7 linked regions of the Homo sapiens genome follow. The protein of the gene in region 6 purifies or fractionates together with the protein of the main gene of each other region. This does not show direct contact. Each region holds a gene or a part of one and is shown on either strand. Other genes may lie near its edges. The genes, in order: NCAPH, STK24, SF3A1, DCTN5, ATF1, MCM6 and SMC1A.

Region 1 (3,500 bases), about 39 Mb from region 6:
AGCGATGTGGCAAGGGGAGGGGATTTAAGGATGGGTAAAATCTGAGACTAGAACTGCAGCCTCCCACGCCTAATGTACTAGGTAGGATAGAGTCTAAGATTTTGTGCTGTTTGGAATAGGGGAGAGAAGTGGAGACATTTGTTCAAAATAACCAGCAGAAAACATCTTCCAGAAACCAAATAAAAGTCATGGAAGCCCTTTGTTATTGTCAGTCCCTCAGATGTCACCTCACTGTTTAAGGAAAGTGATAGCTTTTCTCTGACATTTGAAAATGATGTTTTTAAGAGTTCATCCCATCAACCTATCATTTCTCCCTTCTTAGAAGACAGGATGGCCAGGCGCAGTGGCTCACGCCTGTAATCCCAGCACTTTGGGAGGCCGAGGTGGGAGGATCATGAGGTCAGGAGATCGAGACCATCCTGGCTAACATGGTGAAACCCCGTCTCTAATAAAAAAATTAGTCAGGCATGGTGGCGGGCGCCTGTAGTCCCAGCTACTCGGGAGGCTAAGGCAGGAGAATGGTGTGAACCCGGGAGGCAGAGCTTGCAGTGAGCAGAGATCGCGCTGCTGCACTCCAGCCTGGGCGACAGACCGAGACTCTGTCTCAAAAAAAAAAAAAACAAAAAAACATAAAAACAAAAAAGACACGATGAGAATGGGGCAAAATTGCAGCCATGTGAACAGTACAATTCCGGAGAGCAGGGTGCTACTGAGCCTGGATGGGCAGTGGCGCCTTGATAATGTCTTTAAAAGACATTATCAGCCTAATCGTTTCCCACAAGGGCAGACAAAATGAGCTTAGGAAAGACATCCGAGCAGGGTCTTGAAGAGATTTTTGTCATAGCGGGAAATTATACTAAGCAACTTCTAAGGTTTTACTCAAAACCAGCTTGGCTGTCCCCAATCCCAGTTCTGCAAAGCTCTGTTACAGACATAGGAGTTAACAGAGGGACTGTTCACTCTAATCTCATGAAATCTCCTACCCCCAGGCCCATTGAAGACCTTTACAGGACCATGACATTAAAGTGTTGTGAGACCCTGCTTCCAAATCATATTTAGAATTAAAACAATACTAACCTATTAAGTACATAAAGGCCAACCAAGTTCTGATTATTTTTATGATGTTTACTAGGGTAATCAAAAATTTAATTACTAAACCAATTCTTCTTCTTCTCCTCCAAATATTCTCAATTTATTGGTTGGTTTTGTTTTCCCTGCCTTGCTCGTCCCCAGTCTGCCCATCTGGTAACCCAACACTGCCTAACCCCCACTTGCTTACCTTTCAGGTGGTAAATTGGTGGCTTAGAGTCACCAACAGCCACACTATAAGCAATGTGTACAAAGGGAGCATGCTCTCTGCTACCAAAATGCACGTGGTAACAACAGCCACATTGACGTAATTACTAGATCCCAGGTGCTTTGTTCCAAACGCTTTACATTGTTCTAATCCTTACAAACTCTTGCAATGTCAGTTTTATAACCAAAGTGGCTAAGCCGACATTCAAAGCCAGGTGTGATTCCTCTGAGTCAGAAAGGCTCAGCTGAAAAGCTCAGCTGATGTGTATGACACAGCACACCAGCCCAGCCAATCAGACATCAAATTCAATCACCCCAGCAGGAAATCTGTTAAGAACTGATAGTGCCCAGGCATGGTGGCTCACACCTGAAATCCTGGCACCTTGGGAGGCCAAAGCAGGAGGATTGCTTGAGCCCCAAGAGTTCAAGACCAGCCTGGGCAATGCAGTGAGATGCCCGTCTCTATTTTTGGGGGGGGAAAAAAAAAGAAAGAAAAATTTTTTAATTAGAAAAAAAAGAAAAAGAAAAAAGAACCAATGGAAAACTCCTATAGAAACACTTTCGGACTCTGAGAGCCTTACTGGCAGCTCTGAACCTGGCAGGGCTCCTTCCAGCTCCTGAACTCTTCATGATCCCCAACTGCGGTGTGGTCAGGTTCATCGTTGGCATCAAAGTCATCCCCCAGGGACCCATCGGGGAAGTCTCCACAGTCACTCTCGTCAACTTCAGCATTGATGTCAAATACCTGGTCATTCTTCTTAAACTTGTCTACCAGGGCCGACACAGACTGGAGGGACAAAAGAGGGTTCTGTAATTCTCATTCCTATAACCACCCCAAATCACCACTGGAGGGACAGCCTTCTCACCCTTAAATTTCAGTTTCCAGCCTCCTCCTTCCCCTGAGCCACCCTTCCCTTTCCCATCCCCTGCCTGCCTGGGCCAAGACTCTCACGATAGTACAGTGAGGGGGAAGTTTATATTGTGCAGCACAGGAGGAAGCTGCATTGTTGTCAGGCACATTTTGTAAAACATGAAACAGGATTCTGTACCCATTAACTACATGTTTGCAGAAAACAGTTTTCCATGGAGATCATTTATTTTGGAAATTGTAGTAAGTAGGCTAAAGGGGGCCATGCTAAAAATACACAGAGGAAAGCTCTACACATGACAATTTCTCAGGAAACTCTGTGCCAAGGGATTCAACCCCAAAGAGCAGGAAATTCCTCAAGCTTGACGGCAGCCTAAGAGATTCGAGGCCACTGGGATAACCACATTCAAGAGTAAATCTAATTATAAATGTTCACTGATTAATGCCAGGGCCGCCTTACCCTAGGATAGCAGAAGAGAGGACATAAAGCTGATCCTGGAACTCACTTACCTCTAGAATAGTCCTGCTGGGGTTCACAACCCTACCCTCCTCCCTCAGGGTTTTTGTCCCTACAGAAGTGCCAAAGGAAATATTTTCTGTACTCCTGGCTAAATAAAGATGATGCCACAGTTTTGGTTCCCATTGGGCAGGACCACTCTTGAGCCAACTAACTGAAACCATGAGCCACTAAAACTTGACCACACCTCATTATGTGTTTCACTGTCCCACTGTGTAAACTGGAACCCGGCCAGGGAAGGGCAGATCTGGCGATCTTCTGCACACTGCTGCAAGGGCGCTGGAGAGGATAGCAAGATCACAAAGAGAGATTAGAAGGGGGTCAAGTGCATTCCTTACTCCCTTCAGAATGATACTGAGTGGGACGAGAGATGAGAGGCACAGTTACCTCACTGTCCTCCAGCAAAGGCTCAAGTATCATCAGTGGCTGGCTAGCTGCCAGTCTGTGTCCCTGCCTCTTCTGGGAGCGAGCAGATGCGTCGGCCACACCCACGCTGGAGTGAGGCTATGCACTGTCATCGCACAAATTAGTAAAATACTAGAGGAGAAACCTAAAGCACAGACATTCGATTCTGAAATGAATTCTGTGACCTATGCTATAGCTGGGAAATCAAACGCTTCGTCTTAAAAATACACCAAGTACATAGGCAATCATGTAATGGTACTTTAACTTATTTTTAGTCCCAAACTAGAGAAGACTTACTTCAGGGGATTAGAGCCCCAAATGAGAGCACAAACTTGGAAAATAGATCGTTAGCACAAAAACTATACTAAACAAAATTGAGGCAAGAATAGAAATGACAAGAATGGGAGCTAACAA
Region 2 (3,500 bases), on a different chromosome or scaffold from region 6:
TTTACAAGTCCCGAGAGGGTCAGCTACAATCCAGCACTCTCCCTCCTGCCCATGCCCCGCCCCTAAGTCTCAAAGAAGGAGCAAAGGCGGCAGAAGGGCCGCCCTGGGAGAGGGCCTGTCCCCTTGCCGTGTGGAACGTGCTGGACCCATCACTGACTTCAGGGAGCAACCTGACCTGTGCTCCCTGAAGGAAAGCAGGGACGCCAACACCCGTCTCCTCAATGTCCTCATCTGTAAGCATGGGGATATAATCCTTCTACTGGGCTTCTACAAGTATTGTATGAAATAATACACAATAAACACTCTGAACTCTAGGGTAGCAAATATCATTCTTAAAAATACATTGGGAAAGATGCCTGTGAGTTTAGCAATTGGTTACCTGGAAAATCCAGGATATGACGGCGTTTAGGATATGTCCTGAATAATTATGTCAAAGTTGCTTCATGGGCCCAGTAAAAAAATAAACAGCCTCAGGAGAATGAAAAAGTCCATGCACTTTCCCTAACTGCCTGACTGACCCTATTCCAGCGGCCAATGGCAGGGCCGCAGGAGCACAGCCTGGAAATCCCACGGGGCCAACTCCCATGGGACAAAATGAAGCGCAGGATGGCGCTCAACCCGGACATCCTAGTTAGGAAGAACACAGGTGCCCAGAACCATGAGCCAGGGCTGAAGCCAGACATCATCCAGCAGGGCCTCCGCGTGCCCTGTGGCTTCCCCGACACCAGCGGGCTCGGCTACTTCCCACTTGAAGCTGCAGGTGAGGCCTCGGGCTCTGGCCACAGCCCTGCTCCCACCGGGCCCTGAACTTGCCAGGTCAGAGGCCCTCAGACAAACCCTCCAGGGCACCTGCTGGGCAGGGCAACAGGTGAAGGCTTATTGGAGGGCTGGGAAGAGGCACTGGCAGGACCGTGGCTGGCCAGGCACGGCCCATGGCCGGGGGTCCCCCGCTGCGTGACGCAGGCACAGGGGAGGAGAATGAGCTCCTATGACACTTCCTCTCCTGAGCACCTCCCCTTCAAGGACCAGGACCCCTAAACACAGCCGCAGTGGAAAACTGCCCAAAGAGGGAAGATCCCCACGCAAACAGATGCGTGTGTGGCCCACAGTGAGTACCTCAAAGGCAGCCTCAGCCAGGAAGGGGCACAACAAGAAAAGAGGGGACTTCCAACTTATTTTCAAATCCGCTACTAACCAGATGCAGAACAATCTTCATTCTTATAAAGCCTACTTTTGAAAATCTCTCAAAACACGGCCACGGGAGCACTTTCCTCTGGGAGGGAGAGGCTGAGCAGGGAGTGGGCGTGGGGAGGCCCAGCTGGGAGCACAGCACTGCTGAGCAGAGGAGGGACTTCAGTGAAACATGTGGCTCAGGGGAAACCGGAGGACTCCAGGGCATCCAACGTCTCCTTAGAAGAAAGAATCTACTTTTCACATGGCCAGAAATTGGTCTGAGGCAAAGAGAGCAGGCTGTACACAATGAGATTTGCTAAAAAGCAGGGCAACGGGTGACACAGGGTCTCGGGCTGGGTCACTGTCATCCAGTCTACACATTCCAGGCTGCGGCGGAGTGGGCATCACCCAGGACAGGGGAGGCGCAAGGTGGTGCTGACAGCCTTTGGGAAGGCACCATGCAGGCTTTCCGAGCCTTTGCCAGCTTGTCTTAATGTCCCCAACTCTTAACTGGCAACATCACCACTGAAGTGTGTCCAGCTTCTCCTTCCCCCTCCCCTCCCACTCCGAAAAGGCCAGCCAGGTACCTACCTCTGCAAACAGAGGAGAAATAATTGTAGATAAACACTGAGAGAAAGGCCTCTTCGGGATGTCTTTCATCTTGGGGGAGAGGGAAAAAAAGGTCATCAGAAACAGTTGACGTTCACATTGGCAATAATTTAATAAACCTCCCACCTGGACTATGGAAGCGCAGGAGTTGCCTCTACACTTCACGCTGAGGAAACACCCTCTGCGCACCATAACATCTGAAGGAGACTATCGGCTGCCTCTCACTAGACTTCAAAGTTTCATCTGCAGTGACATGCAAAACCCACGCACCGGGGAAACCAGCATCTGGGTTCCATGTGGAAGGGGACTCTGTGTGGGCACAGGCGGTGAACTGCCTCGTCTTGCTATCTACGCAGAAGTGCTTTACTGGTTGGGCGTGGTGGCTCATGCCTGTCATTCCAACACTTTGGGAAGCCGAAGCAGGAGGATCACTTGAGCCCAAGAGTTCGAGACCAGCTTGGGCAACATAGTGAGACCATGTTTCTATTAAAAAAAAAAAAAGTTTTAAATAAACTGGGCGTGATGTCACATGCCTGCAATCCCAGTTACTCAGGAGGCTGAGGTGGGAGGATCACTTGAGCCCAGGAGTTTGAGGCTACAGTGAGCTCTGATGGCACCACTGCACTCCAGCCTGGGCAACAGAGACCCCGTCTCAAAAAAAAAAAAGAGAGAGAGAGAGAGAGAGAGAAAAGTACTTTACTAATGAAACCCTGGAAATAGAAATCAGGTCAAGATTGGCCATTCCAATGGCTGTCTAGGACAGAGACCGAGTTTCTACTTTTGCAACCTCTATTTGGACATTTAACACCTGTTCACTTATCAAAGCGGGACTTGTAGGATCAACAGGGGACAGCCACTGGCCCACCCTGCCTGAAAGAAACTACACCACTATGCTTTACAAGACCCTAAATATATGGCCTTTCATAAATTTAACAGGCATAAAACCAATTAATCAAAATTGTTTTACATAAATATCAAAAGCAATGCATTTACTTATAAGGTCCTTAAAACTCAGTCACAAAATTATGATATGTATGTAAGTAACCGCAACATGCACAACAGTCCCTCAGAGCTATGAAGTCATTTCACGGGTCACCCCCAAACCCCATGACATTGCCACATCGGGACATCCTAACTCAACAGCAGGGCTGCAGAGAGCAGAATAGAGTGGCACAAAACAGACCAGAGGCCAGACTCCCTGGTGTGAACACCTGGATCATCAGACAGAACTAAAGCTCTTCATCTGCCCATCCCCTAGCAACAAAATTCCAGGACAGCTGCCACAAAGGACCCCAGCCGCACCCACAGCAAGCTTCACACACAAGTGCCTCCAAAACACTGCAGACTGAGGTCAGCGTGGCCATTCTGGAGTGAGCAGACGTACCTTATTTCTGTCCAAGTCCGATGGCTGAAGAGCTCCATTCTCGAGATTCTTGGGATCTTTTTCTCGGATTGTGAAGATCCAGTCCCCAGAATCACTGCCCCCCGAGGCTTGGCCATCTGTTTCCCTTAACACAGAAATGCAGGAAATCCCATCAGTGCTCGCACACCTGCTCTGGGGGCGCTGGGACGTTCAGGGGGAGGCCGCCTGGGGACCTCTAAACCCACACCCACCAGCCCCAAGTCCCCACCCATCACACCCTTGTCCAGTCCCTCTGGGATTTCCCAAAGACCCCCCCGCCTCCTCCCTCACAGAGAAGAGACCATCGGGAGGTGGT
Region 3 (3,500 bases), on a different chromosome or scaffold from region 6:
TAACTTGAGCCCAGGAGTTCAAGGCTGCAGTGAGCTGTTATCATGCCACTGCACTCCTGCCTGCGTGTCAGAACGAGACTCTGTCTCTAAAAAAGAAATGTTGGAAACCTCCTCCTCTAAGGAAAATACAGAAATGGTGGCCAAGTCAAGGAAAGCCTTTCACCTCTACATGGTGCATCCCCTTAATAAAGGACCACAGGGCATTATGAAGACCATGGAGCAAAATGGAAAAATGCTTACAACACAGAGTGGAATATCTTTACTAGTATTACAAGGATCTAAAAAAAGGATTCCAAGGACAGAAGGAAACAGAAAAATGTGAAAACAGCTGGTAGACACTACTCTGGTAATGAGAATATGGTGATTCTTCACCCAACTCCCCTTTTCTGTATATTCTGTTTTTAAAGTATCAGGGGAAAAGGGGAGGCATGAACACTGCTAAGAGCCATTAAACATTTATCTTAAACACAACACTGTCTAAATCTGACATGACCCAATCAACATCATCACAATGTTCAATCAAGCACAGAGAAGCTTTCAACCTAATACTCAAAGGTAATCAAAGCCCTTGAAATGTAATGAGATGAATCTGCAGAGCTGACATAGTGAAAGTCTAACCAAAGTAGGCTGGTGCCGTGGCTCACGCCTGTAATCCCAGCACTTTGGGAGGCCCAGGTCGGGGGATCATTAAGTCAAGAGACTGAGACCAGCCTGGCCAACACGGTGAAACCACGTCTCTACTAAAAATACAAAAATTACCTGGGCGTGGTGGCGCACGCCTGTTGTCCCAGCTACTCGGGAGGCTGAGGCAGGAGAATCACTTGAACCCAGGAGGCAGAGGTTGCAGTGAGTTGAGACTGCACCACTGCACTCCAGCCTGGCAACAGAGTGAGACTCCATGTCATTTAAAAAAAAAAAAAAGAAAGTCTAACCAAAGTAATCTTTATGTCTAATTTTATTAGGTTGGGAAAGGAAGGACCATCCGTTAAATGATGCATACTGACTGAGACACTGCCTCAGGGGGGTGACGTGGTCCCTGGAGAACACATGCTGATTGGGCCTGCTTCCACACATGAAGGAACTGTCCAGAAATCCAGACTGATTGTGAAATCTCATTTTTACTTGTTTTGTTTTTTTTGAGACAGGGTCTCACTGTCACCCAGGCTAGAGTCCATGGCTCACTATAGCTTCAACCTTCTGGGCCCAACCGATCCTCTTGCCTCAGCCTCCTAAGTAGCTGGGATCACAGGCCCATGCCACCACAGCCAGATAACTTTTTATTTTTTGTAGACAGGGTCTCACTATGTTGCCCAGGCTAGTCTCAAATTCCTGAGTTCAAGTGATCTTCCCACCTTGGGCTCCCAAAGTGCTAGGATTACAAGCAAGAGCCACAGCACCTGACCTCCTCATTTTTAAATAGTAGCAACAAATTTGAGTTTCGAAAAAATTACTGTGAGGACAAACAAAACATCTGTAGGCTGGACATGGACTGAGGGCTGCCAAAGGAATACCTTAAATACCCTAGAGAATGTACTGACCTTTGGAGTCAAGGGGCCAGTAAAAAAATTCCATCTAAGGATGTGAGGGTAAGTACAGTGGGGAGAGACAGGGGGAACTCGGAGCAATTCCCATTCCATCTGAGGTGGCGGCTAGCACCTGCGTGGAACTGTGGGGAGAGACAGGAGGAACCCGGAGCAATTCCCATTCCATCTGAGGTGGCGGCTAGCACCTGCATGGAACTGTAGGAAGAGAGAGGATCTCTGACCAATGCCCATTCCATCTGAGAAGCCAGCTAGCACCTGCACAGGACTGTGGGGAGAGACAGGAGGAACTCAGAGCAATACCCATTCCATCTGAGGAGACGGCTAGCACCTGCATGGAACTGTGGGGAGAGAGAGGATCTCTGACCAATGCCCATTCCATCTGAGAAGCCAGCTAGCACCTGCACAGAACTGTGGGGAGAGACAGGAGGAACTCGGAACAATGCCCATTCTATCTGAGGTGGCGGCTAGCACCTGCATGGAACTGTGAGGAGAGACAGGAGGAACTCGGAGCAATGCCCATGCCATCTGAGGAGGTGACTAGCACCCGCGTGGAACTGAACTGCATGCAGCCCCATGACCTCACTCCCGCCTCACAACAACTCTGAGATGGCATTTTTTCCATTTTGCAGATGGGTCATTTGAGGCTCTTGGAATGTGGTCTTTGTACAATGAGAATAATAAACTCCCCTTTTTATCTTCCTCAGGCCAGCAGCTCAGGCACAGACACACACCATCTGTGATGAAGCAGCTTTCCAGGCATTTCCTCAGGCCAGTTTTAGAAGCAGAGGCTCCTGGTGACTGTGGGGCTAAGTGTGATTCTCACTTTGGCCACTGCTATGCTGTGTCAGGGACACCAGTCCTACCTATTGCCTACCCCAGTGCCATGTTGTGGTTTTTTATGAACTAAAAGGCCCAAGCCAACAACGTCTCTTTAAAAACCCTTGTGCTGATTCAGTGCTGAAGTCTCTTCATGCTGAAACCCACCTCTGACCCACCCAAGTAGCTCTGTTACCTGGCCACAAAGCTGGCAGTCTTGTCAACAATATTTCTGACCTCTGGAGGAGGGTAAATAATCCCCACAACTGGCTTAGAAGGTGCAGAATCCTCCTTTGAAGATGCTTCTTCTTCTGTGGGCTGTGCAAACAGGAAAAGAAATAAGGTTTTAAAGTCCCTGGTTCAGAGCAGGTTCTCCACTGTAAAACTCCTCTAGGATATCATTCAGAGTAGACTTTCATTCACAGACTTCCCTCAGGTTAGAACCCTCTACTTCAGAAAAGCAGTTCTCTTAAGTTCACTGCACCTGCAGGGGCTGCTCCTGGGGACCCAGGGAGAAGAGCAGCTTCCCTGGCTCCTCTCTCACTGGACTATCTCAGTGAGACCAGGAATCTGCATTTTTACTATGGTATGAGACCAGCACTTCTCCTGTTGTCCTTCCCAGTTTCTCCCCAACCTCCCCTTTTCCCTAGTTTATAAGACAGGAGAAAAGGGAGAAAGCAAAAAGTTGGAAAGAAACAGAAGTAAGATAAATAGCTAGACGACCTTGGTGCCACCACCTGGCCCTGGTGGTTAAAATAATAATAATATTAACCCCTGACCAAAACTACTGGTGTTATCTGTAAATTCCAGACATTGTATGAGAAAGCACTGTAAAACTTTTTGTTCTGTTAGCTGATGTATGTAGCCCCCAGTCACGTTCCTCACGCTTACTTGATCTATTATGACTCTTTCACATAGACCTTTAGAGTTGTAAGCCCTTTAAAGGGCTAGGAATTTCTTTTTCGGGGAGCTCGGCTCTTAAGACACGAGTCTGCCGACGCTCCCGGATGAATAAAAAACCTCTTCCTTCTTTAATCCGGTGTCTGAGGAGTTTTGTCTGCGACTCGTCCTGCTACATTACCAAATGCCCAGGTGATTCAGATGCAGGGACTCCGACTACATTCTGAGAAACCATGTTCC
Region 4 (3,500 bases), on a different chromosome or scaffold from region 6:
CAAGGTTGTGAGAGTGTGTGTTTGTGTACATTTCGGGGGGAAGGCTGTATGCTAGAGGCAGGACAAACTGTCTCAGACATTACAGACTGAATTTCAGTCTTCCATGAGCTCTGTTGAATTTTCCCTTTGATTTAGTGGACATTTGTGCTTTTGCTTGTCCAGCATCCATTCCCCTTTCTTCTGGTAACAGAACCTGTATTTTCCTCGGTAACCCTCCCATCCCCATCTCATCCATGTGCTTCACCCCCCAGCCCACACACCAAACCCCAAGCCTGGAAACAATAACAGGTCAGCATATGACCCCAATTAGTCTGATGGACCCCAACCTCAGGGCTTTTGCTGGGACTACTGGGGAAAGCAGCACTTCCCACTGGGGTTTCCAGAGGATAGGCTGGAAGACTGGAATAGGCATCTTATTTCCATGAAGGAAGAACCTGCCTGGGAGTGAACCTCCCAGAGGAAAGCAGCACAGAGATGGAGACTAATTCTTACAACATGGGCTGAATGCCTGGAGCCATTTGGCCGTGACATTAAGATCTACTCCTGTACTCTTGGTTTATATTCACCACCCATTCCACTCCACATCCACCAGCTTAAGGTTGGTTGGTTGGTTTGCTCTTTTGTCAATTCAAACTGGAAAAACCCTGAAAAATTCATTTGGATATGAAGCTATTAGTTCATTTGTTCTCCCACTGGTGAGTGATAGTCATGTAGATGTTTGAACCTCATCCCTGACTTTAACCACTGTCACCACTTTTCAATTCTGCCATGATCCACGGCATTCAGAGAGCAAGAAATAAGGTCTGAGAGACTCATCTGTTTCATGGGGCTTCTGTGTACAGTTTACAGCTGTATCTTAGACTCCTTGCTGAGGAAATGAAAGTTTTGATCATTCTGACTGCATTTACATCAGGGCCTGTTAGTTCACTGGTATCCTGGCTAGACAATCAGAAAATATACCTGACTGAGAATGTGGAAATCTTTACAAATACCAGGACAATGCTAACCAGTCCAGACCTCAGATTTTAGCAAAGAACATGATTGATTTGCTTGTGTTTAAATTTTTCCCCATTATTAAACACTTAAATCATATGTTTTTCTAGGAAAAGGTAGATTGCTAAATGAACTTCTTATGAAAGCATGTGAATTTCCTAAGTGGCTCTGAATTTCCCAAGTGGCTGATCTCTCTCCAGCTAGGTGGATAACAGCTATGAGAATACTCAGCAACATCTTTAGCTCAAAAGCACATTATGACTATAGTTCTTCGTTCTTCCTTGTAAAGTTATCTTCCGTGGGTTACCTGCTAGTGGCAATTTCAAAAATAGGGCAACTATCTTCCCTGGTGACCTCAAATTAACATAAACCCTAAGAATTCCTGTCATGACTAAGCTCCTACTAACTCAGACTAAGTTCATGAGGCACTGAGTAAAAGGACACCCAATGTGCTACATAAGGCATGATATAGTCCCATGGAGGGATCCACAGACAAAGGGCCCTGGAAAAGAAGACTAGCTGATGGGATATTTTCACTGTGTATACCAGCCACCATGCAGCCTGAAGGCACCTGCTCTGTCCACTGGTTGGCCATTTTGCCCACTTAGAGAAATAATACTTAACTGGGTTTCAGAAGCTGTCTGGGTAGACTGATCAATCAAATTAAACATTTAAAATGTAGGTATTTCTTAGGCATGAATGTACTGGTAATAGCTGAGGAGGTAAAAGCTGAAACTTCTTTTTTTTTTGGTGGCGGGGGACAGAGTCTCACTCTGTTGCCCAGGCTGGAGTGCAGTGGCGCGATCTCGGCTCACTGCAACCTCCACCTCCTGGGTTCAAGCGATTCTCCTGTTTCAGCCTCCCAAGTAGCTGGGATTACAGGCATGTGCTACCATGCCCAGTTAATTTTTTTGTATTTTTAGTAGAGACGGGGTTTCACCATGTTGGCCAGGCTGGTCTTAAACTCCTGGCCTCAAGTGATCCTCCTGCCTCGGCCTCCCAAAGTGCTGGGATTACAGGCATGAGCCACTGCGCCTGGCCTGAAACTACTTCTTTATTCTTCCCTAGAGAGCTTTCCAAGGAGTTAACAACTGCAGCCGTGCTGCTAATACTACAGCTACCTATATATCCTGTGCAAGTAAGTTAGCATCTTGGAGCCTTGGTTTCCTCATCTATGAAACAGGATGGAAAACCAAATCTGCAGGGAGGTTGTCAAGAATAGAGAGAATAAATGTAAAACTCATAGTACAGTAACAGTGCCTATAAATATTGCTTGTTAAGCTTTTCCTTCAGGCATCTGAGCAATTCTGATGAACACCTACATCTTCACATATCCAAACGGAAATTAAGACTATCACATGGGATGTTATAGGAAGGAGCTATGTGTCATGGGGACGGCTGGACTAAAAGAGTTACTTCCAGTGCTGAGATTCTAGAATTCTAAAAGAATCTCTCCTGAGATCGAGTATTTGTCAAGGCTCAGCGAGTACCGCCAATATGGAACAATGACTATATCATGAAGTGATGTATTAAAAAGTGGCATAAAAACAAGAGCACCTGACAATAGGATTAGAATTTCCTAAGCACTGGGAATAGAATTTGGATTCAACCTTTCAGACATTTCGCTCTGAGGATAAACGACAGGGTTATATGACTAGGCTACTGGGGTGATATCTTCACTTTGCTAAGGAAAATATCAGAAACCCCCAGCTGGAAGGCTAGCTTTTGTCAAGCAATTAGGGTGAGGGGAGAGATGAACTTTACTAACTTTCCCCTTGTCCCAAAGACTTTCTGTCCACCTTTGCTGTACCCTCATAGCTCCTGGAATGTGAACTGTTTGGTTTCTGCAAGTTTTTTGATATTTCAGGGTCTGAGTCTTATCCAGGGCAGAGAGCTGGCTCCATATTAACGGGAATGGTCATTAAAGAAACAGAGTCTTGGCTTTTCCTAGAATCTAGTCTGGAGTACAAATCTAAAATGCAGAAAACACTTTCCCTAAACATGGTTCTCATAAATCCCAACTGAAATCAAGCTCATCATCTAAGAAATCACAGGAAATCCAACCTTGTTAAGCCTTGGTTGGGTTAAATCAACCTATTCCTAGGCTCCAATGGACCAGGGTCCTACAGATTCTGCTGAGCAAGGGGCCCGCTTGCACCCTGAATTACATGTAAATGCCCTTTGATGACTTGAACCCTTCCTTACGCATGTGAATCTCTTTCCTGAAATGCCTGTCTTCCCCCAGTTTCAACTCACCCTTCAGATTTCCTTACTCCCATTAGACTGTAAGCTCCGTGAAGTAAGGCAATAAGTAGGCCATATAGCAGCATGGCTAATAATCATATTGCCTGGGTTTAAATCCCAGGTCTACTGCTTTCTAGCCCTATCAAATCCCTTAACTTTTGGGTTTTTTTTTTTTTTAAGAGAAAGGGTCTTGCTTTGTTGCCCAGGCTGGTCTTGAACTCCTGGGCTCAAGGGATCCTCCTGCCTTGGCCTCGCAAAGTGCT
Region 5 (3,500 bases), on a different chromosome or scaffold from region 6:
ATGGTGACTCACGCCTGTAATCCCAGCACTTTGGGAGGCCAAGGTGGGCAGATCACGAGGTCAGGAGATTGAGACCATCATGGCTAACACAGTGAAACCCCGTCTCTACTAAAAAATACAAAAAATTAGCCAGGTGTGGTGGCGGGCGCCTGTAGTCCCAGCTACTCGGAAGACTGAGGCAGGAGAATGGCATGAACCCAGGAGGCGGAGCTTGCAGTGAGCCGAGATTACTCCACTGCACTCCAGCCTGGATGACAGAGCGAGACTCCATCTCAAAAAAAAAACAACAACCATGAAACTACCCAAATTAATCATTATTACTATTGTTCTAAAAAGCCAATGCTAACTGAAATGAATTGTCTTTGTTCACCATACTTTCTCACATTTATATTCCTTTCATTTTCTTCTTCCTGAAGTATACACTTAAGTAGTTTCTTTTTTCTTTTTTTTTAGAGATGGAGTCTCACTCTGTCACCCAGGCTGGAGTGCAGTGGCACGATCTCAGCTCACTGCAGCCTCCGCCCCCTGGGTTCAAGCTGGGACTACACGCATGTGCCACCATGCCTACCTAATTTTTTTATTTTTAGTAGAGATAGGGTTTCTCCATGTTGGCCAGGCTCGTTTCGAACTCCTGACCTCAAGTGATCCACCCGCCTCGGCCTCCCAAAGTGCTGGGATTACAGGCGTGAGCCACTGTACCCAGCCTCCTTAAGTAGTTTCTTAAATCAGTTTGAAAATGATTATTATTTCACCGTCATTTTTGAAAGACTGTTCAGTAGGCACAGAATTCCAGGTCAAAAGTTACTTTCTCTTTGAATTTAAATATTGGAGCCTGAGTACAGTGGCTCATGCCTGTAATAGCAACACTTTGGGAGGCTGAGGTGGGAGGATCACTTGAGCCCAAGAGTTTGACACCAGCCTGGTCAACATAGTGGGACTCTATCTCTACCAAAAATTAAAAAAAATTAGGTGGGCATCATGGCATATGCCTATAGTCCCAGGTACTCAGGAGGCTGAGGAGCTGACCCCAGGAGGTTGAGGCTGCAGTGAGCTGTGATCACACCACTGCACTCCAGCCCAGGCAACAGGGTGAGACCTCCGTCTCAAAAAAACATGTAATAATTTAAAGATAAAAATAAGGATTTTAGTTCATTGTCTTATACTGTACTTCAAAAATCTGTTGTCAGCTTACTGGTCCTTCCTTTCTAGGTAATTGGTCTTTTCACTTGGAAGCTTTTAGCTTTTAAGATCTCAGGTTTATCCTTGGTGTTCTCCAGTTTTACTTTACAACATACACCTAGATGTAGGTTTCTATTAATTTATCTTGTTTGGGACCTTGCTTTCTTATGCTGAGAAATTCATATCCTGGAAATTGCAGTCATTATCATTTTCTCTCCTGGAGAGACTAGAAGCTGGAAGTGCCCTTCCCTCTTCTCTCCTTTTATCTATGTATGTTGTGTACTGGACCTTCTCATTCTGTGTTCTATCTTAACTTTGTCTTTCTGTGTTCCATTCTAGGTAATCTACTCAGAGCTGTATCCTCAGGTTCTCTCATTTTGTCTTCAGTTACGGGTATTAACCCCTTATCAGATAAGTGGTTTGCAAATAATTTTTTCCCAGTCCGTAAGTTGCCTTTTCATTTTGTTGCTTTGTTTCCTTTGCTACACAGACACGTTTTTTAGTTTGACGTAGTCCCATTTATTTATTTTTTTGTAGCCTAAGCTTTTGGTGTGATATCCAAAAAATCATTGCCAAGGTCAATGTCGAAGAGCTTATCGCCTATGTTCTCTTCTAGGATTTTTATGGTTTCAGGTCTTAACATTTAGGTCTCTTATCCATTTGGTGTTGATTTGTGTAATGGTGTAAGATAAAGATTAAATTTACATTTTTTTTTTTTTTTGAGACAGAGTCTTGCTCTGTTGCCCAGGCTGCAGTGCAGTGGCACAATCTCGGCTCACTGCAACCTCCGCCTCCCAGGTTCAAGTGATTCTCCTGCCTCAGCCTCCCAAGTAGCTGGGATTACAGGTGTGCACTACCACACCCGGCTAATTTTTCTATTTTTATTAGAGACGGGGTTTCACCATGTTGGCCAGGCTGGTCTCAAACTCCTAACCTCAGGTGATCTGCCCGCCTCAGCCTCCCAAAGTGCTGGGATTACAGGCATAAGCCACTGCATCCGGCCAAAGGTCCAATTTCATTTTTTCTTGGAGACAGGATCTTGCTCTATCACCCAGGCTGGAGCACAGTGACACAATCACAGATCATTGTAACTTCAAACTCCTGGGCTCAAGCCATCTTCCCGCCTTAGCCTCTAAGTAGATGGGACTACAGGCGTGCGCCACTATGTCCAGCTAAGGTTTGTATTTTTTGAAGAGACAGGGTCTTGCCATGTTGCCCAGGCTGGTCTTGAACTCCTGGGCTCAAGCAATCCTACCTCGGCCTCCGAAAGGGTTGGGATTATAGGCGAGGGCCAACCAATTTCATTCTTAACACTGACGCGTGCTAACTTCTTTAGTGTACTTTGCACAGCACCTCTTGAACTCATTTGGTACTATCATAACATGCAGGGCTTCATACAAGAGAGTACTCACCTGTAAGATGGGCGCCGTGCTAGGATCCCGTGGGCTTTCTGTGAGGAGCCTATGCTGTCGGATGAGTCCTGGGACTCCTCACTTTCTGATAAAGATGATACCTAAAAAAGAACTGGCATTAACATGATGAACAATGCAGGTGGGAAAAGAAACAACTGAATTTTTACTTTTAGAAAAAAATGATCTGTCTCCTGCCACTCCAATTCATTTGTACATTAAATCTAAAGTCTAAAAGAAAGGAACAAAAGGAAAAGGAAAAATGAGAAAGTTTATTCCAGGAGCCCAACCTATTAAAGGAATATCAAATATAGCAGGCCCAGAGCTGAGAATAAAGTCTGTCCCCCAAATGAAGCAGTACTATTTTACCAGAGTTAAAAAGACCAGGCTCTGATGTCATTCTCCACCCTATTTCTACACTGATGCACATTACTTAAAAGTGTTGTTTTATTACTAATCTACCTGACATGCTAAGTTTGAAAAACCTGTTATATATTCAACTGCTGACATTGAGACGAATATTAAATATACAAGCCTGTAGGTCTGGGAAGAGGTCTGGGCTAGATACATAAATTTTGGAGGTCTAGCTTTTTAGAGTCCTTAAAGCCATGAGACTGGATGAGCTCATAGGGGTAAATAGAAGAGGACTGAGGACTAACCTCAGGAACACTAAGAGACTGGATGAAGAGGAGGAACCAGCAAATGAGACTAAGGAGTCACCAGTAAAGAAGAGAACCAAATGATTGAGCTGTCCATGGAAAACTAGTGAAGACAGCATACTGAGGAGAAAAGAATGATCAACCATGTCCAATGCTGTTTACAAGCTGAGATAAAATAAAGACTGAGAACAGACCATTCGATTTAGCAAGGTGGAGGTCACTGGCAATGGCAGGTATAAATATATGCCATTTT
Region 6 (3,500 bases):
AAAGCTGAGGCGTCCTAGTGGCCACTTTGTTGCCTTCTCTCCTACTGGTCTAAAGTTCCCAGGGGAACAAGGGCAGAAACTACAATCTCTTGTTCTCTTCTTTCATAGCAGAGCAAATACTGTGATGACAAAATATTCCAGAAAGCCAGCACAAGCCATCCTTGGGGCTTTTAATCAAGAATTATCTGATGCTTAACTATCAAGTAGAAGTTTAGGTTCAACATCTTGAATTCATCATTTTTCCTTCTGCTTTGTAGTTAACTATAGGGTGATAAAACTTTGAATAGCATGGTAAAGCAGTTAAGGGTAGGAAGCGTACTAGTGTCCAGACGCCACACTTTACCAATAACTACATGAGGATTTTACTCCATTTCTAGTCTGCAATGGCCTTTTGATAGTATAGATTTCTAGGCTCAATTAATTACTGTTAAAATATACCCTAGGGGTCCAGCTGTTTTAAACAGAACCATTGTAAGGGAATAGTAATTTTGCATTTGTAAAAACATTTGTATGTGCTGCTTCATATGTTATCAGGTCCCAAAATTATTAAAATAGGCCCAGAATGTTAAAAAGAAGGACCTACAAAGCTTTGCCTGACAATAAGCTTGTGAAGAAATGTTCAGGCTGGCAGGTATGCTGATACTCCACAAATTTACTTTGCTAAAGTGAGTTTATCTAACAACTTATCCTCTCTTCCGACAGAACAACACGAAGTTTGGCAATCACAAGTGGCCTATGTGAACAGAGCTTACAGAAGTGACCGAGCATGTAAGCAGTACCAGGTAAGCCTCACCTTCTTCCACCTTTCTGAGGTGAAGCACAATAAGGTTAGAGATTCGGCAGTACTCAGAGAAGCCCAGCCTTAAGGAGGCTTTGGGAGCAGACTCTTGATTTATGTCTTCATTGTAGCCATTGATCCCGTTCACAGGAGCAGGGCTGTCAGCATGACCTAAGTGAAAAATTGACCACCTGAATCTTATTTTTGTGCCCTTAACATCCCCTTGTCAAGCATTTACAAATACACTACTTACATTTAATACTGATTTTTTTCACTTTTAAAAATTATTATTATTATTTGTTTTAGAGACAGGGTCTTGCTATGCTGCCCAGGCTGGTCTCGAACTACCGGACTCAACTGATCCTCCTGTCTTGGTCTCCCAAGTGCTGGGATTACAGGTGTGGGCCACCACATCCAGCCTTAACACTAATTTTAAAACAAGCATACATTCCCACATGATCTCCTCTGCCAAAAAATAAAAATGAAAAACAAAATAAACCGGCTAGGTGCAGTGGCTCACACCTGTAATCCCAGCACTTTGCAAGGCCAAGGGAAGCACATCACCTGAGGTCAGGAGTTTGAGACCAGCCTGGCCAACATGGTGAAATCCTGTCTATACTAAAAATACAAAAATTAGCTGGGTGTGGTGGTGGGTGCCTGTAATCCCAGCTACTCGGAAGCCTGAGGCAGGAGAATTGCTTGAACCCGGGAGGCAAAGGTTGCAGTGAGATGAGATTGCACCATTGTACTCCAGCCTGGGCAACAAAAGCAAAACTCCATCTCAAAAATAAAAAAAAACAAAAAACAAACAAAAAAAAACATGCATACAGTTATACATAGCATATAAGAATTTTCAAATAAATTAGAAGCAAATGTATAAACTCTACTAGTAAAGACAAAAACTAACTTGGGAGGAACGTGAGGGATCAGAGATATAAAGATTTCACAATCTGAAAGTCCACTTGCAGTATTATATACAAAATAAAAAATTCTACCAGTCTGGGCAATATGGCGAGATCCTGTCTCTAGAAAAAATTCTCAAAAAATTAGCCAGGAGTGGTGGCGTGGGCATATGTCCCAGCTATTAGAGAGGATAGGGAGAAGGACTGCTTGAGCCCAGGAAGTTAAGGCTGCAGTGCCATGAGTGTACCAAGGCATTCAAGCCTGGGTGACAGAATGAGACCCCATCTCAAAATAAATAAAATTTCTAGTATTTTTCTGTTCTAATGTGCTTGAAAAAATGTTTTCAATTCAGAAGCAAAACAACAATACAAATAAGGGTAAAACCCAGGGGATTTATGTCTATTATCACCATTTTGCTGCCTTTTCTTTTAGTCTTTCAAATATCTATGTATTTTTTGAGACAGAGTCTCGCTCTGTCACCCAGGCTGGAGTGCAGTGGCACAATCTCAGCTCACTGCAACCTCCGCCTCCCGGGTTCAAGTGATTCTCCTGCCTCAGCCTCCCAGGTAGCTGGGGCTACAGGCAGCCGCCACCACGCCTGGCTAATTTTTGCATTTTTAGTAGAGAAGGGGTTTCACCATATTGGCCAGGGTGGTCTCAAACTCCTGACCTTGTGATCCACCTATCTCAGCCTCCCAAAGTGCTGGAATTATAGGCGAGAGCCACCGTGCCCAGCCAAGTATATATATTTTATATCAACTATTTAATTTCATTTTAACTTGTAAACAGTGAATAGAATTCAGTATCTGCTTTTTCCGTTTTGCTACCATAGACTATTAGCCAACAGCAGGTGTACTTCTACCACATGACATCTCAGAAAATGTTTTGGTCCCTAACTCCAAAACAGTCACATGAACAAGTATCTCACCATTGATGCCACCAGCACCCTCATCTACCTCCATCTGGATCTCTTCCTCTTGATCTAGATTGACATCAGGTGTTTCCACACGGATGATTGATTTATTCAGTAACCGGAAAGCTTCCTTCACATGTTTAGGTTGGACCTAAACCAATAATGATGAAGTAATTAAGCTACTTTTTTTGATATACCAAACAGATTTTCTCCCAATGAAATCACAGTAGTATGTATTTTGGTTTTCTCACAAACACACACACTCTCACAGTGTTGCTTTGGTTTTCTCACAAACACCCTCTCTCATTCTCTCTCTTACACACACAGAAATAGCACTATAAATTCACCAGAATGGCTAAAATGACTGACAATATCAAGTGTTGTCAAGAAGGTAGAACAACTCTCATTCACAGCGGTGAAAACAGAAATTGACACAACTGTTTGGCAGAAAAACATGCATTAACCTATGACCCAACAATTCCACTCCTAGGTATGTACTTGTAGAAATATAAACATATATACATATCATATGAATCCAAAGACATATACATCCCATAAGAACTAGGCCAGGCACGGTGGCTCATGTCTATAATCCCAGCACTTTGGAAGGCAGAGGCAGGCGGATCACCTGAGATTGGGAGTTTGAGACCAGCCTGACCAACATGGAGAAACCCCATCTCTACTAAAAATATAAAAAATTAGCTGGGCATGGTGGCACATGCCTGTAATCCCAGCTACTCAGGAGGCTGAGAAAGAAGAATCGCTTGAACCTGGGAGGCAGAGGTTGCAGTGAGCCGAGATTGTGACACTGCACTCCAGCCTGGGCGACAGAGTGAGACTCCATCTCAAAAACAAAACAAAACAAAAAAACAACCAGCAATGAAACCAGCCAGAAAATGAAATGGA
Region 7 (3,500 bases), on a different chromosome or scaffold from region 6:
ACTGGCAATCTTAGGGACTATTTTTCCTTTAAAAAGGGTCTGTGTATTACTAAAGTTTGAAGACACTACATAAATAATGTTACAAACGTAGCATGATTTGCTAAATTCCCACTTTCCAAGGGGCACTGAGTAGTTTCCAATTTGGAACTATAAATAATGCTTGTTATAAACATCAAAGTGTTTGCATAAAGCTTTGCCAGCATTTTGGATGATCTCCTCAGGTACTACTGAGTTACAGAGTATAAATGCATTGTGAAGCTTCTTGAAGGATGGTGCCACATTACATAAGAATACTCGTCTCCTGGCCAGGCACGGTGGCTCATGCTTGTAATCCCAGCACTTTGGGAGGCCGAGGCAGGTGGATCATGAGGTCAGGAGTTCGAGACCAGCCTGGCCAATATGGTGAAACCCCGTCTCTACTAAAAATACAAAAATTAGCTGGGCGTGGTGGCAGGCACCTGTAGTCCCAGCTGCTTGGGAGGCTGAGGCAGGAGAATGGCATGAACCCGGGAGGCGGAGGTTGCAGTGAGCTAAGATAGTGCCACTGCACTCCAGCCTGGGCAACAGAGCAAGACTCCATCTCAAAAAAAGAAAAAAAGAATACTGGTCTCCTATACCATGGCTGGTATTGAGCATTGTGTCTTCTGTTTTTACATTTTCCACGATGTGTTACAAAATACATTGTATCTAATTGTTGCTTTAATTTGCATTTCTTTAGTAAGACTAAATTATTTGTATGTGTTTAGGGACTATTTGAAAGTCTTCTTGAACTGTTTGTGACATTTATCCATTTTTCCCGTTTAGGTCTTGGTATTTTTCTTATTGATTTAGATGAGAAATTTCTAAGTTGTGGACATTATCCTTCTGTCTGTCGTATTTCTTCCCATTTTTCCTCCCAGTTATTAGTCTGTCTTTTAATTCTTTCCTTCCTTACCTTTTTGAGCTTTTCTATCTCATTTTCATCTTTTTTCACTGTCTGCTCCCACATGTGTACTTTATCTTGGTCCTCCTTCAGTTGGTTCTTTTCAAAATCCAACTGAATGCCCAAGCGAGTCTTCTGATTCTCAAACTCCAAACTGTGTATAAAGGTGGGGGGAGAATCACTCATAATCTCATCAGCCAGAGATAACCAATGTACAAAATCCAACTATGGGAAGAAAGGGAAACTAGACCCAGGGCTCAGGGACCCAGAGTTACTGATTTTCAGTCACAACTTGCTTCATCCATCCATATGCACATAAAACGGTCCCCTGAAGCTGAAGAACTAAGTTCCTCAGCCTAGCCCTGTGGACATGGCATAAGGCAGGGAAGATTCGGCCAAACCTTATTTATCCCCCTTTAAACAATGAAGACCCCAGCGCCCTCCAAGTTCCTACAAGGAGGCATAAAAGAGTCCATCTGATTCTACCAGCTATGGTAATTCCTATTAGGCTTCTATGTACTTTACATACATTATCTCTAATCCTCTAATCAACAGCTCTGCAAGTAGGCATTATTATCCTAATTTTACAAATGAGGAAAACTTAGGCCAAGAGGTAAAAGACCTTGCCCAAGGCCACACAGCTAGTAAATGGCACATGTGAGACTGAAACCCAGATTTAACACCAAAACCCGGGCTCTTTCTAGTATACCACCACTGCAACATAATGTAGTGGATTAAGAAGACTGGCATCTCAACTCTGCCACTTACTAGTAATGTCATTCAGGCAAGTTGGTTATACTCTCCAGACCTGTTTCCCCATCTGCAAAATGAACATAATAATAGTACCTACCTCAGGGTTATTGGGAGATTTTTAAATGAGTTAATATGTATAAAGTCCTTAGAACCACACCGAGTCCACGATAACTACTCAATCAATTTTAGTTACCATTATCACCAGGTATATTGACTGTACTCAGCTTACTTTTGTCCAAGGGCTTCAACTACAGCATCCCAACTTCTGCCCCAAGGTCCCAGAACCTCTTAAAGGGCAGAACTTGGATAGTACAAAAACATGGAGAAAATACTGGATTCCTGCTATTGTCCTCCTCTCCATCTCTTCAGAAACTCAAGAGTATGCAACCAGCATACACAGGCACTGGCAGGCCAGGCAGGACTAACTTCCAATTGCCCTCTCCAACTCCCAATATGGTGTGACAGATGTTGCCAGATGTCATGCTAGCAGCTTAAACCTATTAGCCACTATAATCCAAATGAAATATAACTAACTCTATAATTTTGAGCTATGCAATTTTATATCCAATCTCCTAAGTATGACTCACAAAGGCCTCTGTGATCCGGCCCCTGCTGACCTCTCCACCACTCCCCACCTTCTTCCTGACCCTGCTTTTATGCTCCAGACATTAAAAACTACTTAGTATCCAGAACAAGGCATGCTCTCTCACACTTCCAAGCATGCTGTTCTCTCTGCTTGGAATTCACTTTTTCTGTCGCTGCCTGGCTGGCTAAATCCTACTCACTCTTCAGGTCTCCAGTCATCACTCCCTGTTTTGTAAAACCTTTCCTGACGGTTCTGAGCAGGTTCCTAGTTTCTATTACACTTTGTTGGGTTCCTCCCTTTTTAGACTTTAGGTGCAGAAGCAAGTTAATCATATCCCACAGTTCATAACACACTTATCACCACTGCCTGGGCAAGACCCTTCCCTTGTCCTCTTTGTTTCAATCCCCAATTTCCATTCCCATTACCTTCCCTACTGTGAACATGCACCACAAAGTGACATACACACATGCATTCCTTAAAAATGCATATCCTTGTAAAATGTCTTAGTTCTAAAATTTACACAAATCTACTGTGTTATAAATTTTATTCTTTTTTCTGGTCAATACCAGGTTTATAAGTTATCCATTACTGCCCACAAATCTAGTTCTTGCTGTGAACTCCCACACAGTATTCCAGTCTATATATTCATTTGACTTATGCTCCCCCAGTAATGGCCATCTACATTGCCACCAATGTCCCACTACTACAAGTTATGCCAAGATGAATGACACTGAATGTGTATCTCTTTGGGACCCTATGGCAAGACTCTCTCAGGGATATATACCCATAGGTTTTATATATGTGTATATATATACATTATATATATACACATATATTTTTTTCACATACTACACAGGACATCTATAGATTTCCACCTAATACTGTCAGACTTTTAAATTTGCATTTCTCTGATTAAGAGGTTAGACCTCAATTCCTATGGTCATTAGCCACTTGAACTTCTCTTTCCATGAAAGCCTATCTATATTATTTGCCACTTTTTTTTTTTTTACTTTTTTCATTGCATTGGGTATCATAAGTACTTAGCCACATTTCCATTGGGTTTCTTGTCATTGTTTTTTATTTTTCCTGTTGTTGATTTGCAGTTCCTTGAAAATTTCTTCAGTATTTTGTATCTACCTTAATTACACCATTGATCACACTGTCCTCAAATTGATGTTTCCCCCAGTACTCTATATGTTTCCTGAGGAAAGAAATACAGTCTGATTCAATTCTATATCC

The links.
Region 1: the proteins of MCM6 (region 6) and NCAPH fractionate together in Homo sapiens (co-fractionation; one large-scale study listed by BioGRID). This does not show direct contact.
Region 2: the proteins of MCM6 (region 6) and STK24 fractionate together in Homo sapiens (co-fractionation; one large-scale study listed by BioGRID). This does not show direct contact.
Region 3: the proteins of MCM6 (region 6) and SF3A1 purify together in Homo sapiens (affinity purification with mass spectrometry; 2 studies listed by BioGRID, with this or other methods). This does not show direct contact.
Region 4: the proteins of MCM6 (region 6) and DCTN5 fractionate together in Homo sapiens (co-fractionation; one large-scale study listed by BioGRID). This does not show direct contact.
Region 5: the proteins of MCM6 (region 6) and ATF1 purify together in Homo sapiens (co-immunoprecipitation; one large-scale study listed by IntAct). This does not show direct contact.
Region 7: the proteins of MCM6 (region 6) and SMC1A purify together in Homo sapiens (affinity purification with western blotting; 2 studies listed by BioGRID and IntAct, with this or other methods). This does not show direct contact.

What each region holds. Positions count from the first base shown.
Region 1 is NC_000002.12:96,352,766-96,356,265, reverse strand, and holds part of NCAPH (condensin complex subunit 2), read right to left. Parts: intron 2,961-3,500; coding exon 2,869-2,960; intron 2,084-2,868; coding exon 1,878-2,083; intron 1-1,877. UniProt on the Homo sapiens protein: Regulatory subunit of the condensin complex, a complex required for conversion of interphase chromatin into mitotic-like condense chromosomes.
Region 2 is NC_000013.11:98,458,608-98,462,107, forward strand, and holds part of STK24 (serine/threonine-protein kinase 24 isoform b precursor), read right to left. Parts: intron 3,291-3,500; coding exon 3,167-3,290; intron 1,834-3,166; coding exon 1,765-1,833; intron 1-1,764. UniProt on the Homo sapiens protein: Serine/threonine-protein kinase that acts on both serine and threonine residues and promotes apoptosis in response to stress stimuli and caspase activation.
Region 3 is NC_000022.11:30,350,395-30,353,894, forward strand, and holds part of SF3A1 (splicing factor 3A subunit 1), read right to left. Parts: intron 2,679-3,500; coding exon 2,557-2,678; intron 1-2,556. UniProt on the Homo sapiens protein: Component of the 17S U2 SnRNP complex of the spliceosome, a large ribonucleoprotein complex that removes introns from transcribed pre-mRNAs.
Region 4 is NC_000016.10:23,661,966-23,665,465, reverse strand, and holds part of DCTN5 (dynactin subunit 5), read right to left. Parts: intron 1-3,500. UniProt on the Homo sapiens protein: Part of the dynactin complex that activates the molecular motor dynein for ultra-processive transport along microtubules.
Region 5 is NC_000012.12:50,795,101-50,798,600, reverse strand, and holds part of ATF1 (cyclic AMP-dependent transcription factor ATF-1), read right to left. Parts: intron 2,704-3,500; exon of another isoform or gene 2,693-2,703; coding exon 2,592-2,692; intron 1-2,591.
Region 6 is NC_000002.12:135,845,444-135,848,943, forward strand, and holds part of MCM6 (DNA replication licensing factor MCM6), read right to left. Parts: intron 2,746-3,500; coding exon 2,610-2,745; intron 950-2,609; coding exon 794-949; intron 1-793. UniProt on the Homo sapiens protein: Acts as a component of the MCM2-7 complex (MCM complex) which is the replicative helicase essential for 'once per cell cycle' DNA replication initiation and elongation in eukaryotic cells.
Region 7 is NC_000023.11:53,398,655-53,402,154, forward strand, and holds part of SMC1A (structural maintenance of chromosomes protein 1A), read right to left. Parts: intron 1,077-3,500; coding exon 935-1,076; intron 1-934. UniProt on the Homo sapiens protein: Involved in chromosome cohesion during cell cycle and in DNA repair. Central component of cohesin complex. The cohesin complex is required for the cohesion of sister chromatids after DNA replication.